Linked DNA regions of Homo sapiens: region 2 is linked to region 1. The links come from fine-mapping of genetic effects on gene expression. Tissue or cell type: hippocampus. Region 1 holds a variant in brackets; the other region holds the start of a gene. All regions are shown on one strand. Distances are from middle to middle.

Region 1 (15,131 bases):
GATATGAAAATACTTTTCCAGCAACAATTCACCCTCAGGATCAAGCAGGTGATGTCACCCACTGCCCAAGCTCCTCCCCAATGTCTCCATCTTGTCTTTATGGGTTTGCCTAATCTAACCTCTGCCCCTTCACTCACTGTGCTCCAGCCACACACCTTCTACCCCAGGGCCTTTGCTCTTCCCTTCATCTCCTTCAGTCTCTGCTCAGATGCCACCTTTTCAGAAAGGCCTTACCTGACCATATCCTTCTCGCTATTCCTGTTTCCTACTTTCAAATTAGCATTTGTCACTATTTGACATTATCTGTCTCCTCCATTAGGATTATCAGCTCCTTGAGGACAAGGACTGTTTTGCTTTTTGCTGTCCCCCAGCATCTATAACAATACTAAGCCCATAGTAGGCCCTCAGGAAACCATAGTAGGAAACCTCAGGAAACCCATAGTAGGCCCTCAGGAAACCCTCGAGAATGAAGGGATGATTGAATGAGAGACTCCGAAGATGTGTGCTGCATGTGAGTTTCCAGTTGGTAGCTGACAAAGCAAGGTGCTGTCAGGGGTTGTGCCAAATAATCATGGAGGAAGTGGGAGAAAAGACCCTCCTTTCTCATTCTAGCTCCTGGTGGTGCAAGGTGCTGCAGTTGGAACCTAGCCCAGCACTCTTTTTCTAAAGTATGGCTTTTCTCTTTTCCCCTGCTTGGGGAGGGGCTTAGGGGTAGGACTGGCTGTGCTCTCTGGAGGACACACGCAGTTGGCTGGCGGCTTTCCTCTCATGTGCTAGGAAGTCTGTGTCTCAGGCTGAGGTTAGGAGTGCTGTCATGGGTTAGTGCTGTCATGTGCTAGGGGAAGGGTGGGAGGCTGCTGGCCACCTGATATCCCTGAGAGGCCTGGGCTGGGAGTCAGGGCCCTGGCTCTAGTGACTTGCTCTGTGGCATTCAACAAGCACCCCCACCCCCAGCCCCGGGCCTTGCCATTGAGTAGGAGCCAGGGAGCAGATGTGGCCAAGGTCCCACACAGCCCTGCTGCCCATGCCCTCACTTTCTAATTACAGAAACTTGCCAGTGAACGGGATGTCCTCCAGAGAGAGCTTGAAGAGCTAAAAAAGAAGTTCGAGGGCATGAGGTCTCGGAACAAGCTGCTGTCAAGTGAGATGAAGACCCTCAAGAGTCAGATGGGAACCCTGGTGGAGAAGGGCCGGCATGATGACGAGCTCATCGACGCCCTCATGGTATGGCCCCACCACTCAGGCAGGGCGAGAGCCAGGGGTGGTTCCTCAAAGGATGGGCCCCAGCCATGGCCAGAGTGAGCCCTCACTCACCCCTCAATGCCACCTGTGTAACCCCAAAGCCCGTTGCCTCCAGATGGCCCCCAGTACCAAAGCCCTGCCCCAGGGACAGGAGCAGCTCAGGGAGGCTGCCTGAGGGCAGGTAGGGGGCTGTGATGGAGCAGCACCAGGCACAAGGCACTGGGCCTATGGACCCCAAAAGAGACAGAAATGTATTGGGGGAAGGAGGTGGGATTATACCCTGGGTTATTTTTCAGCAAGGAATGAAAGGGACAAGAGGAGCCAGTACCAGTTCTTATCTCTGCAGTGGCACAGAACCCTTCCTCTTCTGGGCATGTTATAATGCTTAGTCCCTAAGATAACTTCTAGGATCATATATTTTAATCCCACTTCACAGATGGGGAAACTAAGACTCAAATTCATTAGATAACTCATCTAAGACCATACAACTGAGTTCAAAGCAGGTTTATCTGACTATAAAAACTTCCTGGATTAAACGTATCTCAAAATAATAAGAGCTATTTATGACAAACCCACAGCCAATATCATACTGAATGGGCAAAAACTGGAAGCATTCCCTTTGAAAACCAGCACAGGACAAGGATGCCCTCTCTCACCACTCCTATTCAACATAGTGTTGGAAGTTCTGGCCAGGGCGATCAGGCAAGAGAAAGAAATAAAGGGTATTCAAATAGGAAATGAGGAAGTCAAATTGTTCCTGTTTGCAGATGACATGATTGTATATTTAGAAAACCCCATCATCTCAGCCCAAAATCTCCTTAAGCTGATAAGCAACTTCAGGAGTCTCAGGATACAAAATCAATGTGCAAAAATCCCAAGCATTCCTATACACCAGTAACAGACAAACAGAGAGTCAAATCATGAGTGAACTCCCATTCACAACTGCTTCAAAGAGAATAAAATACCTAGGAATCCAACTTAAAAGGGATGTGAAGAACCTCTTCAAGAAGAACTACAAACCACTGCTCAATGAAATAAAAGAGGACACAAACAAATGGAAGAATATTCCATGCTCATGGGTAGGAAGAGTCAATATCATGAAAATGGCCATACTGCCCAAAGTAATTTATAGATTCAGTGCCATCCCCATCAAGCTACCAATGACTTTCTTCACAGAATTGGAAAAAACTACTTTAAAGTTCATATGGAATCAAAAAAGAGCCCACATTGCCAAGACAATCCTAAGCAAAAAGAACAAAGCTGGAGGGATCATAGTACCTGACTTCAAACTATACTACAAGGCTACAGTAACCAAAACAGCATGGTACTGGTACCAAAACAGATATATAGACCAATGGAACAGAACAGAGGCCTCAGAAATAACACCACACATCTACAACCATCTGATCTTTGACAAACCTGACAAAAACAAGAAATGGGGGAAGGATTCCCTATTTAATAAGTGGTGCTGGGAAAACTGGCTAGCCATATGTAGAAAGCTGAAACTGGATCCCTTCCTTACACCTTATACAAAAATTAATTCAAGATGGATTAAAGATTTAAATGTTAGACCTAAGACCATAAAAACCCTAGAAGAAAAGCTAGGAAATACCATTCAGGACATAGGCATGGGCAAGGACTTCATGACTAAAACACCAAAAGCAATGGCAGCAAAAGCCAAAATAGACAAATGGGATCTAATTAAACTAAAGAGCTTCTGCATGGCAAAAGAAACTACCATCAGAGTGAACAGGCAACCTAAAGAATGGGATAAAATTTTTGCAATCTACCCATCTGACAAAGGGCTAATATCCAGAATCTACAAAGAACTCAAACAAATTTACAAGAAAAAAACAACCCCATCAAAAAGTGGGCGAAGGATATGAACAGACGCTTCTCAAAAGAAGACATCTGTGCAGCCAACAGACACTTGAAAAAATGCTCATCATCACTGGCCATCAGAGAAATGCAAATCAAAACCACAATGAGATACCATCTCACACCAGTTAGAAGGGCAATCATTAAAAAGTCAGGAAACAACAGGTGCTGGAGAGGATGTGGAGAAATAGGAATGCTTTTACACTGTTGGTGGGACTGTGAATTAGTTCAACCATTGTGGAAGACAGTGTGGCGATTCCTCAAGGATCTAGAACTAGAAATACCATTTGATCCAGCAATCCCATTACTGGGTATATACCCAAAGGATTATAAATCATGCTACTATAAAGACGCATGCACACGTATGTTTACTGCGGCACTATCCACAATAGCAAAGACTTGGAACCAACCCAAATGTCCATCAGTAATAGACTGGATTAAGAAAATGTGGCACATGTACACCATGGAATAATATGCAGCCATAAAAAAGGATGAGTTCATGTCCTTTGCAGGGATATGGATGAAGCTGGAAACCATCATTCTCAGCAAACTATCACAAGGACAGAAAACCAAACACCGCATGTTCTCACTCATAGGTGGGAATTGAACAATGAGATCACTTGGACACAGGGCGGGGAACATCACACACCAGGGCCTGTCGGTGGGTGGGGGGCTGGGGGAGGGATAGCATTAGGAGAAATACCTAATGTAAATGATGAGTTGATGGGTGCAGCAAACCAACATGGCATATGTATACCTATGTATCAAACCTGCACGTTGTGCACATGTACCCTACAACTTATGTATAAAACAACAACAACAACAAAAACAAAAACTTCCTTGATTAGTAAGGCCATACTGCTTTCCTAACCCTACAGCTTGGACTTTTCTCTGTGGGACCCGAGGCACCAAAGTTTGGTGTCAGATTCCAAGTTGTGCCTGCAGGCCCGGGGCGGGTGATCATGTCTGGCTTGGCTGGGGTGTTTGGGGGGTGCTGGCTCAGGCACCTACCTTAGTTCATGATCACTTTACATGATAGGGTGGTGAGCGGGGCACAGAAGACCAGAAATCTAGGCCTGCCTCTGTCAGTATCTCACTGTGTGACCATAGGCCAGTCGCATCCCCTCTGAGGCTCAGCAGCCAGTTTTAAAAATAAGTCGCAGGGCTGGATGTCCTCTGAGGTCCCTGCATGTCACCATTCTTTGTCATTGAAAGTGGCATGATGAGAGCTGCAAACTAGTCCCAGTCATGCTATTCACCAGCAATATGCCCTTGGACTCTCTGGGCCTCAGTTTCCTCCACTCTGAGGTGAAGACAACAGCCCCCACCTGTTCCAAATCACTGACATTGTCCTTTCTGTTGGCCCTAGGCAGGAAGCCTTTGCCCAGGAGTCTCCTTGAGGGCTTTTCCTTGGGATGAGGCTTCAGTCAGGTGCTAATGGATCCCTGGCAGGGGTCCAGGTACTGCCTCCAAGGGCAGTCTCCCAGCCAAGCAGGATCAGGCTTTTCTTTTAGCTAAATATCTCCCCCACCGGGTGAGGAGTCACCATCTGATCTACTTTCTGTTGTCTGAGAGCCCCTTGGATCTTCTTGGCCCCAAACTCAGAGAAGGAAGTTGAGGACAGGAAAAGAACATGGTCCCCACCTGCCTGATTCAACATCCCCTGATGGCAGGCAAGGAAGGTGTTCCTGCCTCTCGAGGGAACAGGATCCCACTGTTAGGTTCCTGCAGCCTGCTTTGGGGTGAGGGAGGCAGTCTGTTCTTGTCCTCCCCGGCCCAAAGGGCCATGACTGACTCCACCTGCCCTCCTGCCTGGCCCCCCAGGACCAGCTGAAGCAGCTACAGGAGATCCTAGGCAGCCTGAGTCTGCAGGAGGAGAAAACGCGAGTGTCCCAGCACCACCTGGACCAGCAACTGAACAGCGAGGCTCAGCGGAGCAACAGCCTAGTCGCCCAGCTGCAGGCCATGGTAGCTGAGCGGGAGGCCAAAGTGCGACAGCTGGAGATGGAGATCGGACAACTCAATGTGCACGTGAGTAGGGCACTGGCAGCGCCCAAACCCATTTTCAAGCCGGGCAAGTCCATCCAGCTCCTTCCACTTCTTTCCACTTGCCTTAGCTCAGGCCAGACTTCATCCTTCCTGGCTCCACTTTGGCCACCTGCTTCTATCTGGCTCCCCAACCCATTCTGCACACAAACCTGATTGTGTCCTTGCTCTACTTAAAATCTGTTCATGGCTTACTGTCACCCTCGACCTCACCTGGTTCTCAAGGACCCAGGCACCTTCCAGTTTACCCTCTCCCATCCCCAGCTGTGGCCTTATCCTCAGGATTCAAGATGGTGGCAGTAGCTCCAGCAGCAGGATGAGAGAAGGAAAGCCACACTTCATTCAGCTTCTAGGCACCATGTGACTAACTCTTGCTGCCACCCCTCCTGCATCTTCTCTTCACCCCTCCCCTTTCCCTACACTCTGCTACCCAGGCACCATTCAGCTCCTGCTTGCTCCGCACTCCAGGGCTACGCGCAGCGTGAAGCACACTCCCTCCCCTCCTCCCCCACGGCCTCGGTCTGGCCGGCTGCCCCTCAGCCTTTAGGTCTTACCTAGTCAGGAGCTCCTCCAGGAAGCCCCAGGACCCCTGTTCTGTGTTGTGTTCCCCTCCTAGGCACTCTCCTAACTCCCTATGCATCCCCAAACCAAACTTCTCTCAC[G/A]CTGTGTAGTCATTTTCCTGTTTTCTCCCCTGCACTCTCTGTAAGGGAGCACAGACCGTGGTGCCTCAGTGCCTGGCACTGGAGCAAGCACACAGTAGATGCTCAATAAATGCTTGTCTAAGGCATGAGCTTGTAAAGATATTTTGTCTTGGCAGGTGCCTTGAGGGCACAGCTTGGGGCTGCTAGGAGTCAGGCACCTTCACCTCCCTGGGGTGGTGGTGGGGCTGGGTGGTGTCCTTGGGGAGAATTTCTTGACAGGCATGCAGGTCTCCCAGTGACAAAGGAGCCTTGCAGCCTCTGGCCCACTGGGAAATTGACTGGCTCAGCCAAAGGCATGTTGCAAAGCAGCCCTGCTCTTTGTTTCTGGGGATCCGTGGTTTGTTCAGAGGTGAGAGCCCAAGAGCCCCTCGGCCCTGCCTCAGTCTGGCATTGGCTGACCAGCCTGGTTTGTCCTGTAGCCTCTATTCCCACAGGCCAGGGTAGCCTGGGGCCCCAGGACTGGCTGTGACATAGTGCTGTGAGGCTGAAGGGGAGCCTGGGGGCACAAGGAAGTCTGGGAACAGAGCACATACGGCAGTGAATGGGGACTCACCCTGCTCCCCATCCTGGCTCACTGGGGAGGGAAGTCTGAAGGGGAAGATTCCAGCATCTTCACCTCACCACTGTCCTTTCTCCAGGCACACAGGAGAAGACTGTTCCTACCTCCGAGGTCACCAGCTGAATGGGGGCCAAGCATTACCCACCAGACTTAAGTCGGCACACGTTTCGAGTTTTCTCAAAATGGGTGGGGCTGGGGGACAAGCCAGGTTGTTAGGGGCTTACACCGGTTGTCCACTCTGGTGGCCTGACCTCCTGCTGGGGGTCCTCTAATGTTCCTGTCCAGTCCAGCCCCAGCAGGTATCCAGAAGAGGAAGGGGTTGAGGGAGGGGTGGGGGCCTGGCAGGCTTAGCCTCCACCCAAGGCTGCCTGCCCTCACTGAGTCCCTGCCAGCCTCTCTGGCTGCAGGTGTCTGGAAGGTCCAGGTGTTCCAGCTGAGGAAGGCAGCTGGCCTCAAGTCACACCTGGTGTTCAACCACATGTGGGTGGGGCCGCCTGGAGAAGCGGACCCACTCAGAGACGTCAGTCTCTGACCTGCCCCGCATGCAGGGCCGTGCACCTCCCTCTGGAACCTGAATGTAGAACAGCTTCCTGGCCCAGTCACCGTCCTCACACCATGTAGCTTTCTTTCTGAAGAGAGGCATTATTAGATGTCATTATCATGCAAGTAGTGCCTTCACCAAACAGGCCTCGCTTTTCACTCCTGAAAAGAAGCCTCTTTCATATCCTCTGAAAGCCCCGAAATCAAGCCAAGATCCCCTCCTGCCTTCTCTAGGCCTCTGAGCCAAAGCCCTGAGGATGGAACCCACATCTGTTCCTACAGTATCTTCGGAATAAAGGAGTGGGTGAGGGGTCCAGTGGCCGCGAGGTCAGCCCTGCCTATACCCAGTTCCTGGAGGACCCAGGCCTGACCAAGTCCCCGGCCTCAGCAGGCGATCATGTTGGCAGGCTTGGATCTTCTCGGTAAGAAAACAATGGGAGGGAGGGGTTGGAAAGTGAACATTAATTATTCGGAAGAAAGGTTGTTTCTTGCTACCTCTGATGGGAAGCCACAGGTGCAATTTTAAGATGACTATGCTGTTGTTCTTCCAATACGTGGGCCTCTCCTATGACATTAGCTCTGCGTCTGCAGAAATGAGCCGGTTAGGCCCAGATTTTATCACTTCAAGAGCATGCTGGTTGCAGCTCTCTGTAAGAGCCTTTCTGAGCTGGCCTCAAAAGTTTTCTGCCCCTGGGGCCTTCAAACAGACCCGTGTTGGGTTGTTCAAGGCTCTGGTGTCTCCTGTTCTGTCTCATTTTGAGCAAACAAGAGTTCTGGAAAGAAGGGCAGCAAATCCACAGGACTGCTGCAAGGGTTTCCTGGACCCCTGCTGGCCACTGCTCCACCTCACATGCAGAGGTGAGGCCCAGTAGGGCCTGGTCTGCCTTCCCAGGCTGATGGGCCCCTTCCGCCTTTACACAGCTCTGTGACCAGCCTGGGCCACACACTGGTGGAATCTGCTCTCACGAGGCCTTCCCTGCCCAGTCCCCACAGGACCTCACCTAGGTATGGACCCCCGACCCCCGGACTCTCACAGTTTTTTCCCATTCTTGATTGCTCAACCAGTATTGCCATCCCATTAAAAGGAGGGGAAACTGAGGCCAGGCAAAGTCCAGGGACTCTTCCAAGGTTACATAAAGACAGGGAGGATCAGGGAAGTCCTGTCCAAGATGATAGAGTAAGCAGCTTCAGAACTAGAATCTTGGCCTCTGACTCCCAGGCTAGGGTTCCTACCTGCTACGTGAGAATTAACCTGAGGAACCTTCCTGGGCCTGGCTTCTAGCACCTTCCCTCATCTTCTCTTGCTCATTGAGAATCAGCCTCTAAGGGGAGAATTTCACATGATATGGGTTCCCACTGATATCCCCTCAGACCTTGGGCCCCCTCTTTGTTGACAGAATCAAGCCAGAGGGTGTAAATGGGCCCTTTGTTCCTACTGCCAGCCCATAGACAAAGGACAGCGTTGTCCTGCCTCTAAGCCCTGTCCCGAGCCCTGCCCACTGTCCACTGGAGCCATGCTCCTGCTGTCAACACTCCCCACCCTGACCCCTCAGGCAGGTCAGCTCAGGTTCCAGGCAAAGCCTCCAAGTGGCCCCAGTCCCTCATCTCTGTGGCTCCAGGCAAACTGGTCCTTCTCTGGGCTGCTATCCCCGAAAAGTGGGGGACAGCATGCTGCTGACACTTGGCAGCATAGGGTCTGTGGGCCAAAGCTGCCCCACCCATCAGGCTGGGGTCATAAAGGCACTTGGGGAGAGTGGGCTGACACTGAGCCACAAGGCATGTGCCACGCTCCTTAGGGTGGGAGGTCTTGTCACAGCACAGGGAGATTGGGGAGGCTCTGCCTCTCTGAGGTTTTAGTCACAGTAAAGAGAGCAGGAAGATGGACAAGATGACCCCTTCGAGCCCCTTCCAGGCCTGTGTGGCTGTGACCTCTGTGCCACACAGAAATACAGGAGCTGCTCTGTGCCTTGGCTGCCCAGACTGCTGGTTGTCAGGCTTGTTTCTTCCACAACACACAAATACTTACTAAACTCGACCATGTGTGGGCCCTACCCTCATGGAGCTTACAGTCCCCTCCCACAGGTGACAGGACAGGAATTCACAGGGCAGAGTGATCCCAGAGAGTATGTCTATTCGGGCTGGCATGGTTTGAACCCATTCCCTTCAGGTGACTCTGGTGGGGTGCCTGGGAGGAGGGCAGAGTGAAGAATCGGCCCTTTGCTCCTGCTCCTCCTCTTCCCACATTCTAGAACTGGGGAAATGAATGGGGCTTTCCAAACTGCAGTGCACACACAGAGCCCCTGCTGATCAGCCAGGTCAAGTGTGGGTTCTGATTCAGCAGGTCTGGGGTAAAGCCTGGGATTCTGCATTTCTAACAAGCTGCTAGGAGATGCCAGAGCCACCGATTCAGAGACCACTTGTAGTAGCAAGGCCTTAGAGCATATTTAGGAGTCACAGAGGGGTCTGCAGTTCTCGGAGCCCATCTAAACCACCCCTCTCAATGTTTAGTGGGGGAACTGGGGCCAAGAGAGAGGAAGAGACCTGCCCAAGACCACCGAGAAGTCAGCCCTCAGGATCACATGCCCCAGCCCAGTTTTCAGTACACTGCCCAGCTCTGCAGCCTTCCCTATGCCCTGTACTGCTAGAAAAGTAAGCTCAGGGTCTCACTGGGAAAAGTGGGGGCACAGCGGAGAGCAGCTTGGAACTCACATGTGGGCTCTGGGGGGTTGAAGTTGGGGGGCAGAGTTTACCTTCTGTCCTGGCTCCAGCCAGCAGGTAAGAGGGAAGCAGTGATGGGTTGGCTTAGGGCTGGAGAAAATTGAACAAGTCACAAAGCCAAATGCACAGGCTCCAGGAAAGTGGGCTGGGCTTGGGGACCAAGCCAGAAGATGCAGGAGGGCTGGGAGAGACTGGCAGGGACACAGAGACTGGGCACACCTGACACTGGGTAGGGCAGCCAGGCCCCAAAGGCCACACAGATACCCAGGGCACCCCAGGTCCCCAAGAGCCACCTGCCACAGCACCAGACTAATTCCAGGCCCCCACAGGGCTTGGATGGACAGAGGTACCAGTGTAACTCTAGTTCTGGTAGGTTCAGCTTTGGAGCCTAGGGACTTCAGCAGGACCAGGAATGGTGGGCAAAGAAGCCAGCAGGGGAGGACCTAGAGGGACTGGGTTTGCTTCCTTTGCTCTGGCTGACATTCGCCCTGAATGTCCTTCTAGTCCCTCCAACCATCACAGGGGTAAGTGTTATTTCTAGGCCTCGGATGACCTCTGCCCTCTGCCCTCCACCCTGGTCCCAGGTTCTCGGACTCCCCAGAACAAAAAGGCTGGCAGGCACAAGTGTCAGAGATCAAGGCCCTCTGGCAGGCTGCCGAGGTGGAGCGTGACCGGCTCACCGAGTTTGTCACTGTCCTGCAGAAACGGTAACACATGGCACCCAGGGATCTCTCCCATAGGCCTGCATGTGGTGGGGACTGGGGCCAGGCCTCATTTATGACTGGGTCCTCCTCACCTGAGAGCTCGGCTCCCAGTGTTGGTCCAGGGCATTCCTAGCCACAACTCATGCGCCCCACAACCTTGGGGCCTTGTCGTCACACTGTGTTTTGCCCTTAGGAACAGCCCCATTCTACATGCACCCAATGGGACTGTTGTATGGCATGTGGACATTGCTGGGAGTCTCGGGGGAGAGACACCCAGAAGTAAATCAGTCAAATCAATCCATCAATAATTAAAATCTGTGATGAGCCTGGCACTGTGCTTGGTGCTGCTGGAGGGTTTGGTGGGAAGAAAACACAAGCTAGACTGACATCTGGAATTGGAAAGAACAAGAGAGGTGCTGATAGCTGGGGAGGCAGGGAGGGAAGCACGAGGCCTGAGGCACTGGACCAGGAGGTATGGTTTTCTCTAAAGGGTTGTTGACAGACTTCCGTTCAGATAAATCAGTGCTCCTCGCTCAAATGATCCTTTTGGCAAGAATTGCAGGTGTCCAGGCCAACACATGGCTCAACCATGTGACCTCCACACTGAAAAATATTAAGCACACCACTGAGTTTCTGCCCTAACAGGCTATATCATGTATCAGTCAAGGCTCTTTGATGACAGACAATAGAAAGCAATTCTGGCTGAATTCAGTGAAAGGCAGATTTTTGGAAGGTACTGGCAGACTCCAATGCAGAGAGCAGGAGAGGAGCCTGAGAAGGTGCAGGCATCTTTGGTAGCAGGAAACCCTAGGCAGTTCCCTGGGCCACTGAAATGGCATGGCCAAATGGCTTTTAGCTCTTGTGCCCATGGGTTCTGGGAGAGAAGGTTGAACTGGCCAGTGCTGCGCCCGTATCCACCCCACATGTGAGGGCACTCTGACTGAAGTTCCTCCGGGTGCTCACAGAATGCAGGAAAGGTAGTTTGCCAAAGGGAAAATGGGGGTACTGATAGCAAAAGAAGGAGCTAGGGGTGCAGGGAAGGACAAAACAAAGGATGCCTGCTACCTAAATAGTGAGTGGTCAGCTTTGCTTTCACATAGTACATAGAGATGATGTGAATTTCAGACATACTCAAGTATATGAGAAAAGCAACATTGATTCTTTTTCTATAATTGGAATGTAATGGATAGTACAAGTCTTTAGTCTATCAAGTAGTAGAAACATACTCAATGCAGGCTTTCTCTCTCATTTCTCTTGAGTTACATCCGAGTTTGGGGGTGTGTGAAAAAGGTGACTCAGTTAGCTATTGCTGCATAACAAACCATCCCAAACCTAGTGGCTTCAAACACAATGGTTTGTGCTTTCTCACGATTCTGTGGCTTGGCTGGGTAATTCTACCCCACATAATGTCAGCTGGGGTCACTCACTGGTCTCATGCAGCTGGCACTTCAGCAGGGATGCCTCAGTTCTCCTTCATGTGGCTTCTGTCTCCATGTGAGATCTCATTTTCAGGGCCTCTCCACACAGGGCTAGGATTGGGTGAGGCAAGCAGGGCACCTGGGGTATGAAATGTAAAGAGGTGCTCACACCCAGTCACATACATGCAACTCTCTGTCTGCGAATATGCTGGCCCTTTTTGGGTCCTTGGGTTCCTCCTGCTACTCTGTGTCATCCTGGGGTGTTGGGGCTCTGTGAGGCTGTGCCAGGCCCATCAACCAACACCTGTTGCCTTTTTTCCTTGAGGTTATTGCTAAGTCCCTGGGCTGTAACAAGAAAAGGGAACCCAGGTACCTTCTGCACTCAAATTCCCTCAAATCTATTTGGTTTAAAACTAAATGTTTTAAACTAAAACCATTTTGTTATAACTAAATTGGCCAATCATCAAAAATGATGATTCCTTTCAAAACTGATGATTGGCCAATTAAACCAAAGGAACTATTTTAAAGTAAAACTAAACGTTTTAACTAATGTTTTAACTATCCCAAAGTACAGGACCTTCGTTTCTCAGAGATCCTCAATATCTACTCCTTTCTTTATCTGCAGAGTCTGTCCCAGCCTTGCACAGGGGAGGGTGGGGGGGAGTCTTTCTCTGCCTAGCTTCCCTTCTCCTCTACTCTGCCCTACAATTTCCAGCTGCCTCAGTTGCCCTCCCCCACCCAGTTCCCTAATCCTGTGTGCTCATCCCAGCATCCCAGGGTGCTCTGCGTGGCTGCCCCCACCCCACCCTGCAGTGGAAAGTGCCTCAGGCAGAAAGCCAAGGCCAAGGGCGAGCCAAGCTCAAGTCCTTCCTTTCCTCAAGTCTTGTATCCAGTGTGTGTCGTCCTGTTGTCCATTGTCTGAAAACAAGTTCTTTCTTACATTTTATCAATTTTTCTAGTTACTTACAATAGGAGTTGGTTAGTCCACCATGACAAAAGTCACTAAATATGTCTCTTTTTTAAAAAGCACGTAGTCGGCTTTGTTCTTAAATTTAATCTGGGAATTTCTGTGTTTGAACAGTATCGTTTAATCCACTTTGATTTTGGTAATATTTAATCACTTTAATTAATATTTTCTATTTGCCATGATTTTTCTTTGTTCCTTTTTTTCTCCTTTCTTCCCTTATATTGGACTGATCAAGTTTTATTTCTCTTACTTCTTTGCAAGTTTGGAAGTTAGATATTCTATCTCTGTTCTTTTAGTGGTCACCCTTAACTTTTAACATCAAACTCAGCAATCTAAAGTTAGTTGGTTTTGCTACTATCACTTTAAGCAAAAGAATACATTTAGAATGTTTTAACTTTGATTTCTCCGTTTGTGCCTTTCATGTTACTGTTTCCTAATATTTCTCTTCCACATTCTTTTTTTAAACCCTGAAATTAAACCCTCCAAAGTAAGTCTTGAATACTGAATAGTGAATATTCGTTTCCTTTTGCCAACATGTTTGAAAATGTCTTCACTCACTGTTACTTCTTGTATCTCAATCTTCCTTCTAGGTTCACTTTCCTTCTTACTGAGATGCCCTTTAGTTCAGTGAGGCCATGTAAATAGTAAACTCTCTGAGTATTTGTTTATTTTTATTTTATTTATTTATTTATTTATTTTTCTTTTCTTTTTTTGAGACCGAGTCTCTCTCTGTCACCCAGGCTGGCGTGCAGTGGCATGATCTCAGCTTACTGCAACCTCCGCCTCCCAGGTTCAAGTGGTTCTAGTGCCTCAGCCTCCCGAGTAGCTGGGACTACAGGTGTGAGCCACTACGCCCAGCTAATTTTTGTATTTTTAGTAGAGATGGGGTTTCACCATGTTGGCCAGGCTGATTTCGAACTCCTGACCTCAGGTGATCTGCCTGCCTCAGCCTCCCAAAGTGCTGGGAGTAAGGGCATGAGCCACCACGCCTGGCCTGTTTATTTTTAAATGTCTTTATTTTGCCTGTCTTGAATGAGAATTTAAGAGAAATTTGGGCATAGAATTCTAAATAGATGGGTATTTTTTTCTCAGCACTTTCAGGCTATCCTATTGTTTTTTATCATCTACTATTGCTAAAAAGAAATCTGCTATCAGTTTTATTGTCATTCCTTAATAGATTTGTCCTTTCTCTCCGATGCTTCTTCAGATTATTCTCTTTGTCTTTGAAGCTTTGAAATTTCACTGTGATACGTATATACATATACGTATACACACACACATATGTATATATGTAATATGCCCATATATGTATATATGTATATATGTGTGACTTTACATATATGTAAATATATATTTTATATATACATGTAAATATGTGTGTATATTTGTATGTATGTATATGTAAAGTATACATATGTAAATATATGTAAATATGTTATACGTAATTTTATCTACTCAGAAGTTAGTGTTCTTTTTCAATCCAAGGACTTTATATATTCCCAAGGACTGCTGTCCATATATTGCCTCTTCCTCACTCTCCCTATTCTTTTAATCTAAAATTCCTAGTCCATATATGTTAGACTTATTCTTTCCTCCACATCTCTTTACCCTTACTATTTTGGGCTGAATTCTGGGTGATTTCTTCAAATCAGCTTTCTAGATCACTAAATATCTTCAGTTGTGCTTCATCTACCATGAAACCTATTTTGATAACTGTATTTTTCGGTAAAAGCTCCTGTTCTCAGCCAGGCACAGTGGCTCATGCCTGTAATCCCAGCACTTTGGGAGGCCGAGGTGGGTGAATCACCTGAGGTCAGGAATTCAAGACCACCCTGGCCAACGTGGTGAAACCCCATCTCTACTAAGAATCCAAAAATTAGCCAGGTGTGGTGGCAGGCACCTGTAATCCCAGCAACTTGGGAGGCTGAAGCAGAATTGCTTGAACCTGGGAGGCGGAGGTTGCAGTGAGCCAAGATCACGCCACTCCACTCCAGCCTGGGCAAAAAGAGCAAAACACCCCCGTCTCAAAAACAAAACAACAACAACAAAACCCTCTTGTTCTCTTTCTTATAGCATTTGTTCTTTCATTACAATTTTTGCCTTTCTCCTTTAAATAATTTTGAACTTATTCCCTTTAGAGTTTTCTACCATCTTCATTAATTAGGATCCTAAGTAATGTCTGTCGGCTCTCCCCTTGTAGTAAATTATTTCCTTGTGTGGTTTCAATTTTTGTGATTTTATGAGCTTATCTTCAGTGGGGCTTTTTTCCTTGTAGGAGTTCTTAGGTGATGACCGTGTTTCTGTGGAGGTGTTCTGCATTTGTCTCTGTGAAGCTTTTAGGGTTTCAGTGGTCTCTGA
Region 2 (15,131 bases), 32 kb after region 1:
GTGGCAACCTGACCCCATTCAGTCCTCTAATGACCCAGGGGTTTGTTGTCTTATTTGACAGATGAAGAAACTGAGGTTCACAGAAAGAAGCTGAGCTAATATTTAACTGCAGTCTGCCTGACCCCAAAACCAGGGTCTTGCCGTTCAGAGATTACCCAGGGTAGGCGCACCCACCCACCACTGAACAACCCCACCCCTAGGCAGCAGCTCCAAGAGGCATCTTTGTTTGCTCACCAAGACTGCTGATGGATGCTGGTGGCAGAGGGCCGAGGTGGGGCTCAGCTGGAGCTTCAGGCAGAAGGGTTTTGAGGTAGTGGCTCCAGTCAAAGGTACAGTGCACCTCCCTCGCCATGGTGAACTTGGAGGGATGCTGCAGGGGCACCCTAAGATCCGCAGGCCTCTATGACTGTCAGTGTTGCCCTTTCTCAGCTGTAACTATGCACTTATAGCTACAGGAAGGAGTGGCCCCAAGGAGGGTCACTCATAGCCACACACCCCAACTCCGACACCCTGGCCACACAGGTGCACCCACAGCCCCACACAAAGATGCAGATGCACACACATACCTCAATTCAGGAGCATGCAACTGTACGTGCACACAGGCACCTCCATGTGTGCACACTCATGGACACACAGGTGCAGATGAGCACACACATGTGGATGTGGACACACATTCCCACACGTGAAGACATAGCCACTTGTGTGTTGCTTGTGCAGTGATGCACAAATGCAGGTGCACATACTGTGAAAACACCCCCTTCCCCAGGAAAAGCCACTGGGGCTCCTGCGAGCATCTTGTCAGCTCCTTCCTTGGAAAAGCCACTGCGGCTCCTGGGACCCTGTCTTCTCAGCCCCTTCCTTGGGGATGGGGCTATGGAGGGACCCTAGCTGGCCCCCACTCCTCAGGGAGCCCCTGACCCTGCATGGGGTCACACGGATCTAGAGATCCCACAGCAAGTTAGAGCAAAGGCCACCGGGATGAACTGATGATTCTGGTGGGGTCCTAAGGGTCTCTGGGAAGGAAGAGTTTTTCTCTGGTTCCTTGTGAAGGAAAACGGCCAGGCAGAGAGCCAGGAGAGAGAGGGTCTGTGCTTGGAGGGGACAGTGTGTGACAGCGAGGGGTGGGCTGGATGTAGAGTCTGAACACAGAGGAGTCAGCACCTTCTCCTGCAGGCCCTGAGGAGCTCCAGAGGGTGATCTGAGTATGAGGGGTACAGGCTCTGGCCTCAGTGCAGTCCCAGGGAGTGAGAAGCAGGCATAGGATCAGCCATCCTTCCTCAAGATCACCTCAGGGAAGTGCAGAGATGGTGTGACCCACACTCCAGCCACTTCAGGGTGGTTCTGCTGCCCTTCCTGGGCTATGCCTGAGAAAGGAAGGAGCATTAGGTCATGGAGTCTGGACAGGTGGGGCTGCCTGGGGCATACTTCTCTCCCCACTTACCAGCTGTGTGGCCTTGGGCAAGTTATTTAACCTCTCTGATCCTCCACATTCTCATCTATAAAATGCAGACAATAATAGAATCCTCCCTCAGGGGGCTGTTATTAATATGTATGTCAAAGAATAACCCAAAGACGTTTCACTAATTATTAGCTCTCTGTTTATTTCTGTACAAGGAACATGTATCTATAGACTGATTTCAACAAGAGTTATATAAGAGAGAGGGGAAAGAAAAACTGCAGACAGGCAGGCACAGGAAATCTTGTTTGCACATTTTTGGGTAAACTGATTTGCTGGTGTCTTGCTTTGGCCAACTCTGTATATAAAGATGAGTGTTTCAGCTTTCAGATTCCACGGGCAACCTTGACAGCATTGCTGTGGTGCCATGTGCGGGAGTGCCTGTCATGTCTGCTGGCACCTACCACCGGGCACCTCCCCACCCCTAGCTTGGTTAGATCAGGTCTGCTCCATTCCCTCATTGGAACCCTCTGCAGGGTTCACTGAGATAAAGTGTCCATTGCTTACAGCAGCTGCTCGCACACAGTAAGCGCTTAATAATTATTCGCTCTTAGTGTTCCCTCCATTTGTTCAACCAGAACTTGTTGAGCAGTTCCTCTGCCCCAGGCACAGAGGTGCCGAGGTGAGGCAAACACAGTCCCTGGCCTCCAGGAACTCTCAGATCAGCTGAGGAGAGAGACAGACTGGTCACAGGTCACCATTCCATCCAGCCAGTCGGCCACCAGGCAGTCAGTGAGTGCCAACAGCATGCCAGCCTCTCCAGGCCTGGGAGGGACCTAGAGGTGAATCTGACTTGCTTCCTCCTTTCAGGGAGTTTCCAGTCCAATCAGAGGTGTGGGAAACGCCATGATGGAGCTGGGTGGGGAAGGATGCAGGACCGGGCTGCAGCACCACAGGGCTTCCCCCACCATCCCCACCCCATCCCTGTGGCAGTTCCCAAGTTCCCAACCTCCTTGATCAGATCTGGGTAGAGAGGGGGCTTCACATCTCCCTGAGGCAAAGGAGCAAGGAGGAGTAAAGGGAAGGTGGGGAGAGCCTGGGAGAAGGATTTTCAAGGGAAGGAGGTCATCAAAGGGGTCAAAGATAGGGACCCTGAGAAACCTAACTTAGGTGGGCCAGGTGCACAGCCAGGCAGCTGGTCTGTCCAGGTTAGTACCAGTGCCTCTCCTGGGTAGCACCATCTGTCCTGGGCACCCTGAGGATGACCTCCCTGTCCCTCAGGCAGGTGGGCAACAGGTGTGCTGGATAAGACACCAAGGGCCCTGGCCAGATCCACGAGGAGGTAGTTGGAGGGGAGGGTGCAGGTGCCCTGGCGGGTTGAGGGGCAGGGGCAAGTAAAGAGTTAAGTGGTGAAGTTGCCTCAAGTGAGGGCTCTCCCTGCCACACCCCAGGCAGGTGCTGCAGGTCTTGGTGCTCAGGTTCCAGCACTGACAGGTGAGACCTGGCTGAGCTGTGGACGTAGTTTGGCCACTGTCCCCACAGGGGCCTCTGGGGCACCACAGCTGAGCTGGGCAAGGTTGCAGCCTGGCTCAGGCTTAAACACACTACATTGTCACTGGGCCCCTCCCCTGCTCCCAGGAGCCCAGGGCAGGGTGACCTCCAGTGGGTGTGCTCCTCTGCACCCCCACACCCAGGGGCCAGAACAAGCTTCTCCTCCCCACCCCCAGCCAGCCCACAGCCAGCCCTGAGCACAAAGAAGTCGGCCTGCCCACCTTCTCCCCACAGGTGTGCCTTTACGTACACTGACTCTCCTATATCTGTGAGCCTTGCACACACACAACACACATATACACACGTATGTACGATACATGTGCACACACAATACACAGGATACACATACACAGCAAACACATGCCATGAACAACCTACAACACAAAACGTACACACAGACCCACACACAACTGATACAAAACACAGTTGCACACGTACATGCAAACACACAGGATACTTTCCTCGCATTTTTACTTTGAGCAACAACCAAACAAAAAAAGTCTGAAAATTGAAAAGGGACTCAGATTTGAGAGAATTGTCCCCACTCCCCACCATATCTTTCCTAGTGGCCCTTGTGGCATTTGGGAAGCTGGCCCCAGGGCCAAGTGCTGGTCTTAGCTCAGTCAGCTTCCTGTCCCTCACGTGGGCTGGCCTTGCCAGGTGCCCTCCCCTGCCACCCCCCTCAGACACAGTGGAGCTGGCCTCAGGCTGTCCAACCACAGATCCATGGGACTTCCCTAGCCCTCCACCCCTCTTGCCATTTCCGCACACCACACTCCCTGCAGACCCTGCTGTGTGTGGGTCACCCAGGGAAGGCCTCACTTCTGAGTGTGAATCCAGCCTTTCTGGGCCTCTGGGGGTCAGGGTGTCTGTGGCTCTCTAATAGCCTCTGTTTATGAGCAAGGCTCTTGTCATGGAGTGAATCACCGGATGCCCCCTGCCACCCCAGTGAGGGCCAGGGCCAGCGGTATGCCCATTTTACAACTGAGGATCTGAGGCCCTAAGAAGTGGGTCACACCAGCTCAGGGTCAAGTAAATTGGCTGAACCTGTGTTCTTAACTCTGGGGTCAAACCACCCTGTCTGCTCCCTTGAGCCATTTTCTTGGAGCCTCGTGAGGGCCCCAGTGTGGGTGCACGGGGTTGTCGCCCCTGCAGGGCAGTCAGTGCCAGGAGCTTACAGGGCTGATCCAACTACTTGGCTTCCTCATGTGCCAGGTCCTTCTTCTCCCAACTGCGTACAGTGGCAACATCTTCCCTATGGGCTGTGGTGACATTAAAAAGTTAATCCATGTACATCCTGGCTACTATGATTAACTTACTCCTAACAACCTTTGACTACCCCTCCCTGAGGAAGCCCTCCTTAACCCTGAAGTCTGGCTCAGGTATCCTTCCCTTCCTGATGCTGGCCTCTCTAGTGCCCATTACCCACCACAGCTCTAACCCAGCACCCACACTGTGCAGTAGTCACCATTCATGCTTCTCAGGGTCGGGGACCACAGACACGGGCCTCTGTGTCCTGTGTGGAGTGTGTAGGTTGGGCGTCTCCTTGCTGTTCTCCAGGCCAGCGTGTCTATGTGCTCGGGAGGCAGCTCCCTGCCTAAGTGCAGTCTCTCCCCTTCCTGGGCCCTGATGGGTGGGGAGCAGCACCTCCCTCCTGCCTCCTCAACTGAGCCTGAAGCTGGGGTCATAGGATCAGCAGGGGCTCCAGGAGCTGTCCTGTGACTGATCACAGCCACAAAGCTCCTTCTACCCCCGAGAGCCTCCCCACAAGCACACAGGTGAACAGGTCCCCCTAGATAGCACAGACACATACAGCTGCCCGAGACTTGGCCTCAACCGAAGGGGCACTGTCAGAGGTTCTTAATCTCAGGGGCACCTTCAGGATGCCCCTCCCCTCAGGTATCCAGGGCTGAGGCCTTGGATGCTCCCTTCCAGAATGAGGGCCCTGTCCTACCAGGACTCCCAGTTGGTTAGGAACACACCTGTCTTCCTGTCTGCCTCCACTCTGCCACCGAGAGGATACCAGCCATTCCAAGTACCCACAAGCCTTGCCAAGTGACCCTGCTAGCACCCCTCCATCCAGGACACTCCCTATGGGACAGGGCTGACTTATGGGGATCCCTCTCAGCCACATGTCCCATGCCAGTTCCAGTCCCATCAGGCAAGTCAGCCCTCCCTCAGGCACTGATGCATGGCCAGCCAGGACTCACGGCATAATGAAAAGGACCAGGTCATGGGGCGAGACAAGTCTGCCCTGGGATAGCCCTTAGGAGGTCATATGTAAAGGTAGGAGCTGGAGTCCCTGGAGCCCAAGCATGAAAGTGTTTGCATGTTGTGACTGTGTGTGTCTGTGGTGGGGGCAGGGCTTACAAGCCTGGAGAGGCTGGTGGGACCACCAGGAGTCTTCCTGGAAGAGGGAAGTCCTGGGTAGCAGTGAGAGAGAGGCACAGGCTCTCTAGGAGCCAGGGGAGGCAGGCTGAAGAGAGGCCCAGGTGTCCCTGTCTGAGCCTATGCTACTGGACACCCTCCCCCCACCCAGCACCCGCCCCCCTTCAAGGATCCTCCCTGCGGCTCCCTGTGGCCAGCAGCTCTGCAGCACTCGGCTCTGCTCCACTCTGCTCAGCTCCGCTCCAGGAAGGCCACCTCCTCCTCCCCCTCCTCCTCCCGCTGTCACCACTCACCGCTCATAACCTCAAGGGGGTGGGGACCCCAGGGCTGGACACACCCCACCGTGGCCCCAGAGCTCAGCCGGTCGCACGGACGGACAGTTGGAAGCCGGACCCCAGAGCCTGAGGTGGGCAGTGTGCCAGGGTCCCTTGCGGCCTCCTCAAGGTCAGTGCCAGCTGGGGATGCAGCTACTCTGGGGCTCTTGAGACTTGTGGGGCACACCCCAGGCCCTCATCCCAAATCACAGGCCCCAAAAGGGGCTTTACCCCCGGGGCATCTGGGGCAGGCAGGACCAGGGGAAAGGGTATGCCCCCGTGTCCACAGGCCAGCCCTGGTCTGGGGGTCTATCAGGAGAGGCCCCAGGCTGGGGGCCAGCTCCTTGCAGAGGCCTCACTGGGGACACCCCGCACCGGCCATGGGGAGCTAAAATTGGAAAGTGGCGAGTGGGAGGCAGCTGACAAAGCTATTTCACGGGCTCTTCACCATGCTCCGGTTTCAAGCTCCTGCTCCATTAACCTGATCCCCAGGGCCTCTCCACCCCCACCCAACTGATGAGGAGGTGCCTCCACCCTCAGGCCGACAGCACAGCCATCAGGCTGGCAGCCTCTGCTGTGGGCAGGGGCAGTGGTGGTCTTCTCTTACCCCAGATTCCAGAGGGGGGTCACTGAGAAACCCAATCCTGAAGGGAGGCAGGCAGAAGTCTGTCCCAGGTCTGCCATGTGACCTTGACAGGTCCCTGCCCCTATCTGGCCCATGACCCCTCCATCTGTACGAGGAGACCGTCGGCTGCTGGGGGGCCCAGGGGAGATGGCTACAGGGCTGGGGATGAAGATTTAGGGGAGGATCAAGGGTGGGCAAAAGGGCCACATCAGCCACCTCTTGGCCCCGTCAGCCCAAGAGTTGCCTGGACATGTTCCCTGCTTCCTCCCTTTAATTTGGGTCCTATGTCTGTATCCATGGAGTCCTTGGGAAGCCCCTGAGCCAGGCTGAAGCGGGATAGGAAGGGTAAAGGTGCTAGCTGAGCCGTAGTACGGCCCAGCAGTTCTCCAGGGGACAAGCTAGGCCCCCGCTGGAGGGAGTGGTGAGACTCAGCCGGGGCCTGATTCTGGTCAGCACCTTGGACAGCAGCCAGTGCCCTCCCTGGCCCCGCCTGGCCCCGCCTGGCCCCACATCCGCTACTCCTGGGCACCTCCTCAAATAGCACAGCCTCCAGCTGGTGCCCAGGGCCTGAATACACAGAGCGCTGAGAGAGTGGGGCAGTGTGGTCACGGACACAGGCAGGGACTGGGATGTGACAGGCTGGAGCTCAGGGACTTGTTGGGGGAATGGGGGTCAGTGACAGGCTGGAGGCTTAATGCGAGGATGGAGGCTTGGCTCTAGGGGCAGCACCTGGGGTGGTCATGGGATCTCAGGGAGGGGAGTGGGAGTCAGAGAAAGGGTCTTAGAGAAGCTGGGGCTTTGTGAGGAGCTAAGGGAGACTCACTGATCGAGGTGGGGACCCTGCAGGCAGAAACCTGACTGTAGTGATAGAGGTGGGGTTTCTCCGCACGCAGGTCATGGGGGCCTTGGCAGGAGCGGTTTTGGCAGAGGGTGGGGCCGGTGCCTCTGGAAGGTATGAAGATGTAAATGAAGGTGAGGGAGGCAGGCTGCGAGTGAGGGCTCTGCGGGCAAGAGCCTTGATGGGTGGGGTGGGGGCAAGAGCAGCAGCTGGGATGGGGCACTGGTGTTCGGTGGCCTGTGAACTGTGGGGGGCACAGGGGCAGGCAGAGTGATGGTACAAGGTCCCCAAGGGGCTGGAGGGGCAATCTCTCTTCAGAGTGGGTCCCCACTGGGGTGGTGGGACCATGAGGTGGGGCTAGGCTTGGCTGGAGACTGTAATTCCCTCACCCAACCTGTCTCCCCAGCCCTGTCCAGGCTATGGGCATCAAGACAGCATTGCCGGCGGCTGAGCTGGGCCTCTACTCTCTGGTGCTGAGTGGGGCCCTGGCCTATGCTGGCCGGGGCCTCCTTGAGGCTTCACAAGGTAATGGCTGTGCCCCGGGGCAGGTGGACAGGACCCTTCTTCCCCTGGAGGCCTCAGGGTTCCAACCAGCAAAGCCAGAAAGTTACAGGCTCCAGACCTAGGGTACTCCTTCTAGAACACGGCTGGATCTCCCTTTTCAGCCCGGGGTTCCCATCTCAGATAGTCACTGGAGGCTGGGTGGAGCCAGGTTCAGTCACAGGAACACAGAGATGCAGAGACACTGACAGAGAGATGGACACAGAGTCACACACATAGACACACACACACACACACACAGAGGCCTGGACCCAGACACACACACACAGAGACCTAGACCCAGACATACACACACACACATCCCGACACACACACACACACACAGAGACCTAGACCCAGACACACACACAAACACACAGACATATACACACACCCCCCAACACACACACACACACATACACACACAGAGACCTGGACCCAGACACACACACACAGAGAGAGACCTGGATGCAGACACACACACAAACACACAGACATATACACACACACCCCAACACACACACACACACACACACACACAGAGTCCTGGACCCAGACACACACACACAGAGACCTAGACCCAGACATACACACACACACATCCCGACACACACACACACACACAGAGACCTGGACCCCGACACACACACAAACACACAGACATATACACACACACCCCAACACACACACACACACACAGAGTCCTGGACCCAGACACACAGCGAGACCCAGAAAGAAGCAGATGCAGCACCAAAGAGACTCAGACCCGTGCCCCGTTCCTGATGCCCTCGCTCCCCAGGGTGGGGCAGCCTTGTCCACGGGGGAAGGTGGGGCAGGGGATGTGAAGGCCCCTCTCCCTGAGGCCACACTCTGTTCTCAGATGGGGCCCACAGGAAGGCCTTCCGGGAGTCTGTGCGACCTGGCTGGGAGTACATTGGCCGGAAGATGGTAGGTCCCCCACATCCCAGGGTCCCTCCCATCCCGAACCCTTCTCTGCTCTCTGCTGTTCCAGATGTTGGCAAGTAACAGAGAGCTTCTCACAGCTCTGGGGCCTCTGGCTTGAGCTTCAGTGCCTTCAGCTTCTTTACTGGCCCCTCCTGTATCCTCCTGGGACATCAAGTTTGCCCGGGCCCTGCTCACTTGGGAAATAGGTCGCATTAGTGGAGTGTGCTTCAGTGGAGCCTCCAGCACCTCCTTCCCAGAAACAAAGCAGTAAAGGGGGAATGGCAGGCAACGTGCGGAGGAGAGGGGGAGCTTCAAGCGACCCGGCAGCCCCCATGGTGCCCTTCACTCCTCTCTACCCTCCTGCCTCGGTACTTCCTTCACAGAGGAGTGTGGAGACCTGCAGGCACTGCTCTTGTGTTTGCATAAAGAGGACACGTTGGGTTTGGCTAGTGGTAAAAAATAATTATTATTATTAAATTTAAAAATGATAATAATAAAAGAAGAACATGAAGGCTGGGAAAGGTGCTGGGGCTCTGACCAGCCCAGGTTCCAGCTCGTCCTGTCCCCTCTCCCACCCTCACCTGCCCCACCTCCTTCTGCCCCGGACTGCCCCAGGATGTGGCTGACTTCGAGTGGGTGATGTGGTTCACCTCCTTTCGCAACGTCATCATCTTTGCCCTCTCCGGACATGTGCTGTTTGCTAAACTCTGCACGATGGTTGCCCCAAAGGTGAGCTGGACCTGGGCCACCCAGCCTCTCCCTGCCAGCTCCTCTTTCACCACAAGGGTTGTGGGAACCCCCTCCTGGGGTCACGCCCCCATTTATATGGCGAAACTGAAGCCTTCTCCCTGCCCACAGCTCCGCTCCTGGATGTATGCTGTGTACGGGGCCTTGGCTGTGATGGGCACAATGGGCCCTTGGTACCTGCTGCTGCTGCTTGGTCACTGTGTGGGCCTCTATGTGGCCTCGCTTTTGGGCCAGCCCTGGCTCTGTCTTGGCCTTGGCTTGGCCAGCCTGGCCTCCTTCAAGATGGACCCCCTAATCTCTTGGCAGGTGTGAACTGGTGCAGGGGTAGAGGGTGTAGGGATAAGATCCCAAACCTCTCACTTCATCCAAAGTCCTTGCACCCCAAGTATCCCCAAGTATTCCCTTCACTTTCCACCTGTCTTCAAGCCTTTGGGTATGTCCTGGCCACAAGGTGAGCACCTGCATCACAGGAGGAACTATCCAGATCATCCCCTGCTCCTCGCATTGCTGGGATAGAGCAGTGGCCAAAGTTAACTGGCTCTGGAAGAGAGGAAGGGACAGGACCAGGCTGGGCCCCTGTGGGAAGCTAGGGAGTGGGGAATAGGTTTTCCAGAGACAGGAGGCACCCTAGTGAGCTGGTGGCCTGTTCTTTCCCCCTCCAGAGCGGGTTTGTAACAGGCACTTTTGATCTTCAAGAGGTGCTGTTTCATGGGGGCAGCAGCTTCACAGTGCTGCGTTGCACCAGCTTTGCACTGGAGAGCTGTGCCCACCCTGACCGCCACTACTCCTTAGCTGACCTGCTCAAGTACAACTTCTACCTGCCCTTCTTCTTCTTCGGGCCCATCATGACCTTTGATCGCTTCCATGCTCAGGTGAGGGGACACCCTGTGGGCTTCTAGAACAGGGCTGAATCTCCCTTTTCAGATTGGGGTTTCCATCTCAGATAGAATTCCCCAAGCAGGCTGTATCCCCATCCTCAGGCATGATTCCAGGATGAAGCCGTGTCTCCCCTCCCTCCTCAGACCCCAGGATGGGGCCACCTTTCCCCTCCAGCAGGGACCCCAGGGTGGAGACATGTCTCTTTTCTCAGACAGGACTCCCAGGCCACGAATGTTCCCTTCCCACTCAAATGGGGCTCCCAGGACAGAACTGGGTCTCCCATGGCTGGCTGTGAATCCTCCTCAGACTCCAGGGTGACCTCTGTCTCCACCCTCAGGCAGGACTCCTGGATAAAGCCATGGCTCCTCCTGCCCCAAGTAGTTGGTGAGCCCCCCTCAGACAGGGCTCCCCAGGCAGGGCTTGCCTCTTCCCTCAGACCCTTCGCATCCCCCCAGGTGAGCCAGGTGGAGCCAGTGAGACGCGAGGGTGAGCTGTGGCACATCCGAGCCCAGGCAGGCCTAAGCGTGGTGGCCATCATGGCCGTCGACATCTTCTTTCACTTCTTCTACATCCTCACTATCCCCAGCGACCTCAAGTTCGCCAACCGCCTCCCAGACAGTGCCCTCGGTGGGTCCACAGAAGAGAAATGGGGGCAGGGCTGCCGCCCCAGGAAAACAGACCCTCTGCACCCCCACGGTGCCACAGTCAGGGGAGCTGAGGCACGCAGGGCACAGCACCTGAGGGCGTGGGAGCAGGGGCTTATTCTTTCTAATGCATGGGTCTTGGCATTAGCTTCATCCTGTGGGGCCAGAGCAGCATCCCACGGACCCCACCCACTTCACCAGGCATGACTGATTTCCACAATATGGGGGGGTCTCCGTGGGGCGGGCAGAGCCTGGTGTCTCCCCAAGGAAGTGGTGGGACAGGGTCTTCATGGGGGCAGGCCCCAGGCGATTGGACCCCAGGCAGTGACAGTGCCCTGCCCCCAGCTGGCCTAGCCTATTCAAACCTGGTGTATGACTGGGTGAAGGCGGCCGTCCTCTTTGGTGTTGTCAACACTGTGGCATGCCTCGACCACCTGGACCCACCCCAGCCTCCCAAGTGCATCACCGCACTCTACGTCTTTGCGGAAACGTGAGTGCTGGCCAGGACGGGGGAGGCTCACCCCCTGGGACCACACCTTCCCCTAGCCTCTTCCCCCATGCCTGGGGAGCTCTGCGCCTGATGGCAACATGCCCATCTGCTTTCCTCTTACAGGCACTTTGACCGTGGCATCAACGACTGGCTTTGCAAGTGAGTAGGAGTGGGGTGGGGGTGGTCACAGCCATCCTGCCAGGTGTCTGAGCAGGGCAGTGCCAAGATGGGTCCACATTTTAAAAGATCACCCCTGGGCCAGGGGAAGCAAAGAGGGCAGTGAGGAGGTATTGGCAGAGGTCTGGGTGAAAGATATAGAAGTTAGGATTTAAGTGAGGGCCCTCGAGGTGGAGAGAGGTGGTGGGAGGAGGGTCACACAGTCAGCAGCCTGAACAGGACGTGGCCATGAACTGTGGGTGTTGGGAAGGAGAAGGAGATGACGCTCAAATTGCTGTCTGCAGCCTGGGAGGATGGAGGGCAGTTTCCAGAGAGGGCTTCAGTTTAAGAAATGTATAGTCGCAATCTAGGAGACATCCCTGTGGAGGTTCAGGGAGGTGGTTGGGTCTGAGGGTCTGGGTTTCTGAGGGTCCAGAGGACTGATGGAACTCAGAGCGTCCTGAGTGTGGGCAGGTGGTTTTTAGGCTTTGGGAGTGGGTAAGTCCTCAGGAGAGGGAGTGGTGTGAGAAGAGGAGAGACGGGGATGGCCGAGATTCAGCCTGCAAGAGCTCTGCTTGGAAGGAAAAGGAGCCAGCAGAAAGGACTGGAAAGAGTAGTTGGAGGGGCAGGAGAAGAATCAAGGTCATGTGCCACCCTGGAAGCCAAGGGAAGACCATCCAGGCATGGTGGGGACAGCTTGGTCAGATGCCACTGAGCCTCAAGGAAGCTGGAGACCGAGGATTAGTGCTGGTGACATGGAGGTTTTCAGCCTTTCATGGGCAAGGCAGGAGCAGGTAAGGAGGGAAAGTCAACTGAGGAGTAGAGAAGTGTGTGATGACTCCTGGAAGAAGCCTGGGACTGCAGGGGGAAGACAGGAGTGGCTGAGGGAGAAGAGGGATGTGTTAAAGATAGGAGAGAATGGGACATGCTAAGAAGAATTATTCAACAGAGAAGCTGGGGATGCAGGATACAGGGGTGATTGATGGAGTGAGGTCCCTGAAGAGGAAGGAGGTGAGGGTGTCTAGTTCCAGGCGGAGGCCTGGCTTCAGTGGGAGGAGGAGGAAGAGAAGCCAGTGTGGATGCAGAGGAAAGCAGGTTAATGTAGACAAGTAAGGGATTCCACCTGAAGGCTTCAGCCTTGTCCATGAAGCAGGAGGCACGGCCATCAGCTGAGAAAGCCAGGACAGGGACGTGGAGAGAGGCAACATATATGCTTACCCCCACAACCCAGCCTGGATCCCCCCACTCATACTATCTCTCCACTCATACTTGTGGGGAGATAAGAATACAGTGGCCCTTGCAGAGCAAGGGAGAAGCAGCTGACTAGAGAAATCTTGGCACTGAGTACCCAGGTGGTATTGGAGGTGGTGGGCTTATGAACTCCAGCATGTGAAGATGTGAGATTTCCCCCATGGGGCTTAGCTGCCTGGGTGTAGCTGAGGAGAAAGTAAGTGATTGGGCTCTCCCAGATGGATGACAAGGAAGAAGTCAGGAATAAGGGTTTTTAGATTATTTATAGTCATGACTCATTGGATATAAGCCTGCTAAGGACGGTGGTGAAGGTGGGAGGGTCACAAGATCAATGGGATTGAAGAACTGAAGCTGGGGGGCCAGGAGGTCAAGAGGAGTTGGGCAAAGAATGGGAATTAGAAAGGAGTGAACTTTCAAGTGGTGACAAAGTTGGGGCATGGCCATGGGTGTGGGTGGCTGAGGTGGAGTGGAGAAAAAGCCATTGGAAATGAGGAGGTCGAGGAATGGAGAGGCTGGTTATTCCTGGGTCTTCCACAGAACTTATTTAACAAATATTTATTGAGCACCTATGTGCCAGGCATTGTTCTAGGCACTGGGGATACAGCAGTGAACATGGCAAAGACCCTGAACTCATGGAGCTTACAGTCTAGTGGGGAGAAACAGACCATAAACAGGTAAACAAACATAAATAAGATAATTTTAGAGAGTGGTAAGTGTTATGAAGAAAATAAAATTGCAATGGGATAGAAGTTGACAACAGGGTAGAAGCTTCTTTAGTCGGGGTCTAGGCAGGCTTCTCTGAGGAGATGATATTTGAATTGAGATTTGAGTGATAAGGAGATGTGGAGCAGAGAATACCAGGTAGAGGGAACAACAAGGGCAAAGGCCTTGAGACACAAACCAACTGTGTGGGTGTAAAGGTAAGAAAGGCCAGTGAGGCCAGCATGATGAACTGGGGGAGCATGGTGGCTGATTTGGTCAGGAAGGGAACAGAAACCAGACCACTTGGGATCTTCTAGCCAGAGTAAAGAGACTGAGTTTATTCCTATTGTAATGGGGAGCTATTCAGAGAGGTTAATCATGGAAGTGATGTGACCTGAGCTACACTCTTAAAAGATGCCTCTGGCTGCTGTGTGGAGAATGAACCATGGGGGCAAAAGCAGAAACAAGAAGACCACTTAAGAGGCTCTTGCAATAATTTATGTGAGAAGAGTGATCATCTTGACTAGGGTGGTGGTGGTAGAGGAGGTGAGTGGTGGTCAGGACTGAGAGGAGCCAACAGAATTTGCTGGCTTGCTTGGATGTGGGTGATGAGGCAAACTGAGAATCCAAGATGGCACCAAGGCTTATACCCTGAGCAACTGAATGGATGGTGGTGCCATTCACTGAGATGAGGACGGAGCTGGGTTTGAGCAGGGATAGGGGAATCTGTCAATCAAGTGACATGGCTAGTAGCAATTGCATATACAAATCAGGAGAGACTGGGCTAAAGACACAGATTTAGGGGTCATCGTCATAGAGCTAGTACTTGAAATCTTGGGTCTGGATGAGATCATTTGGGAAGTAAACGAACAGAGATAGAGAAGCTATAATGTCCCAGGCTGAGCCTGCCACAATTTGAAGTTGGTTGGAGGAGGAGCTGCTACGTGAGGTCAGGAATGTTGAATGCACCCAGGGTGACAGTGTTGAGGAGGACGCCCTGTTGTGTGTCCTCTCCCATCTCATCCCTGCCCTTTCCCACACTCCCAGTGGCCCTTCTCCCATCTTTCCTGCAGATATGTGTATAACCACATTGGTGGGGAGCATTCCGCTGTGATCCCAGAGCTGGCAGCCACAGTGGCCACATTTGCCATCACCACACTGTGGCTTGGGCCTTGTGACATTGTCTACCTGTGGTCATTCCTTAACTGCTTTGGCCTCAACTTTGAGCTCTGGATGCAAAAACTGGCAGAGTGGGGGCCCCTAGCACGAATTGAGGTGAGCAGGGAAGACCTGGGGCTGGGACTGGCTGGGTCATAGAGGGCGGGGGGGCACTGCTGCTTTCTGGAGTTGTCCAAACACCTGGCCCCTAATCCAGAACTTTCTCACCACCACCCTCTTAGTTGTCAGAGCAATGGCTCACTCTGTAGGAATCTGCCCCTCCCTCCCTTCTATGAGGAATGGAGCACCTGGGCCTTGCCATGTTGGTCAGGCCTTGTCCTCTCTCTGGACCTGTTTCCCCATGTTTAACAAGGAGGGAGAGCTGACCTGGGGCTCTCCGAGACCCAGACATAGCCCCAAGACCTGACTGGCCAGGTGGGTAAGGCTGCTGACCCACCATGTCCTCTTTCCTTTGGCCTCTTGTCCCGCTGCCCATGCTTTCCTGGA

Evidence for each region. PIP is the estimated chance that this variant, and not a neighbour inherited with it, causes the effect. A credible set is the group of variants that fine-mapping cannot tell apart.
Region 2: HHATL starts here. The variant in region 1 is the best candidate, but not a certain one, in a credible set for the expression of HHATL in hippocampus (GTEx, PIP 0.50).

Annotation. Positions count from the first base shown.
Region 1 is chr3:42,725,727-42,740,857 of GRCh38, reverse strand. It overlaps CCDC13 (coiled-coil domain containing 13), which reads left to right. Exons shown (of 16, transcript NM_144719.4): 9 at 1,048-1,224; 10 at 4,945-5,151; 11 at 7,249-7,388; 12 at 7,888-7,971; 13 at 10,269-10,391. It overlaps CCDC13-AS1 (CCDC13 antisense RNA 1), which reads right to left and starts at 8,283. Exons shown (of 4, transcript NR_046732.1): 1 at 8,200-8,283. RefSeq lists enhancers at 4,310-4,995, 6,368-7,051, 7,052-7,737, 8,267-8,561, 9,914-10,413 and a silencer at 8,267-8,561. The variant G/A (reference allele first, on the strand shown) is at 5,829.
Region 2 is chr3:42,693,227-42,708,357 of GRCh38, reverse strand. HHATL (hedgehog acyltransferase like) reads left to right here and starts at 5,560. Exons shown (of 12, transcript NM_020707.4): 1 at 5,560-5,779; 2 at 7,519-7,637; 3 at 8,533-8,600; 4 at 9,213-9,326; 5 at 9,456-9,650; 6 at 10,007-10,216; 7 at 10,679-10,850; 8 at 11,213-11,357; 9 at 11,481-11,516; 10 at 14,540-14,741. The coding sequence starts at 7,532. It overlaps CCDC13 (coiled-coil domain containing 13), which reads left to right. Exons shown (of 16, transcript NM_144719.4): 16 at 1-2,602. It overlaps HHATL-AS1 (HHATL antisense RNA 1), which reads right to left and starts at 5,817. Exons shown (of 3, transcript NR_146957.1): 1 at 5,629-5,817; 2 at 4,126-4,209; 3 at 1,593-2,311. RefSeq lists a silencer at 6,775-6,844 and an enhancer at 11,332-11,934.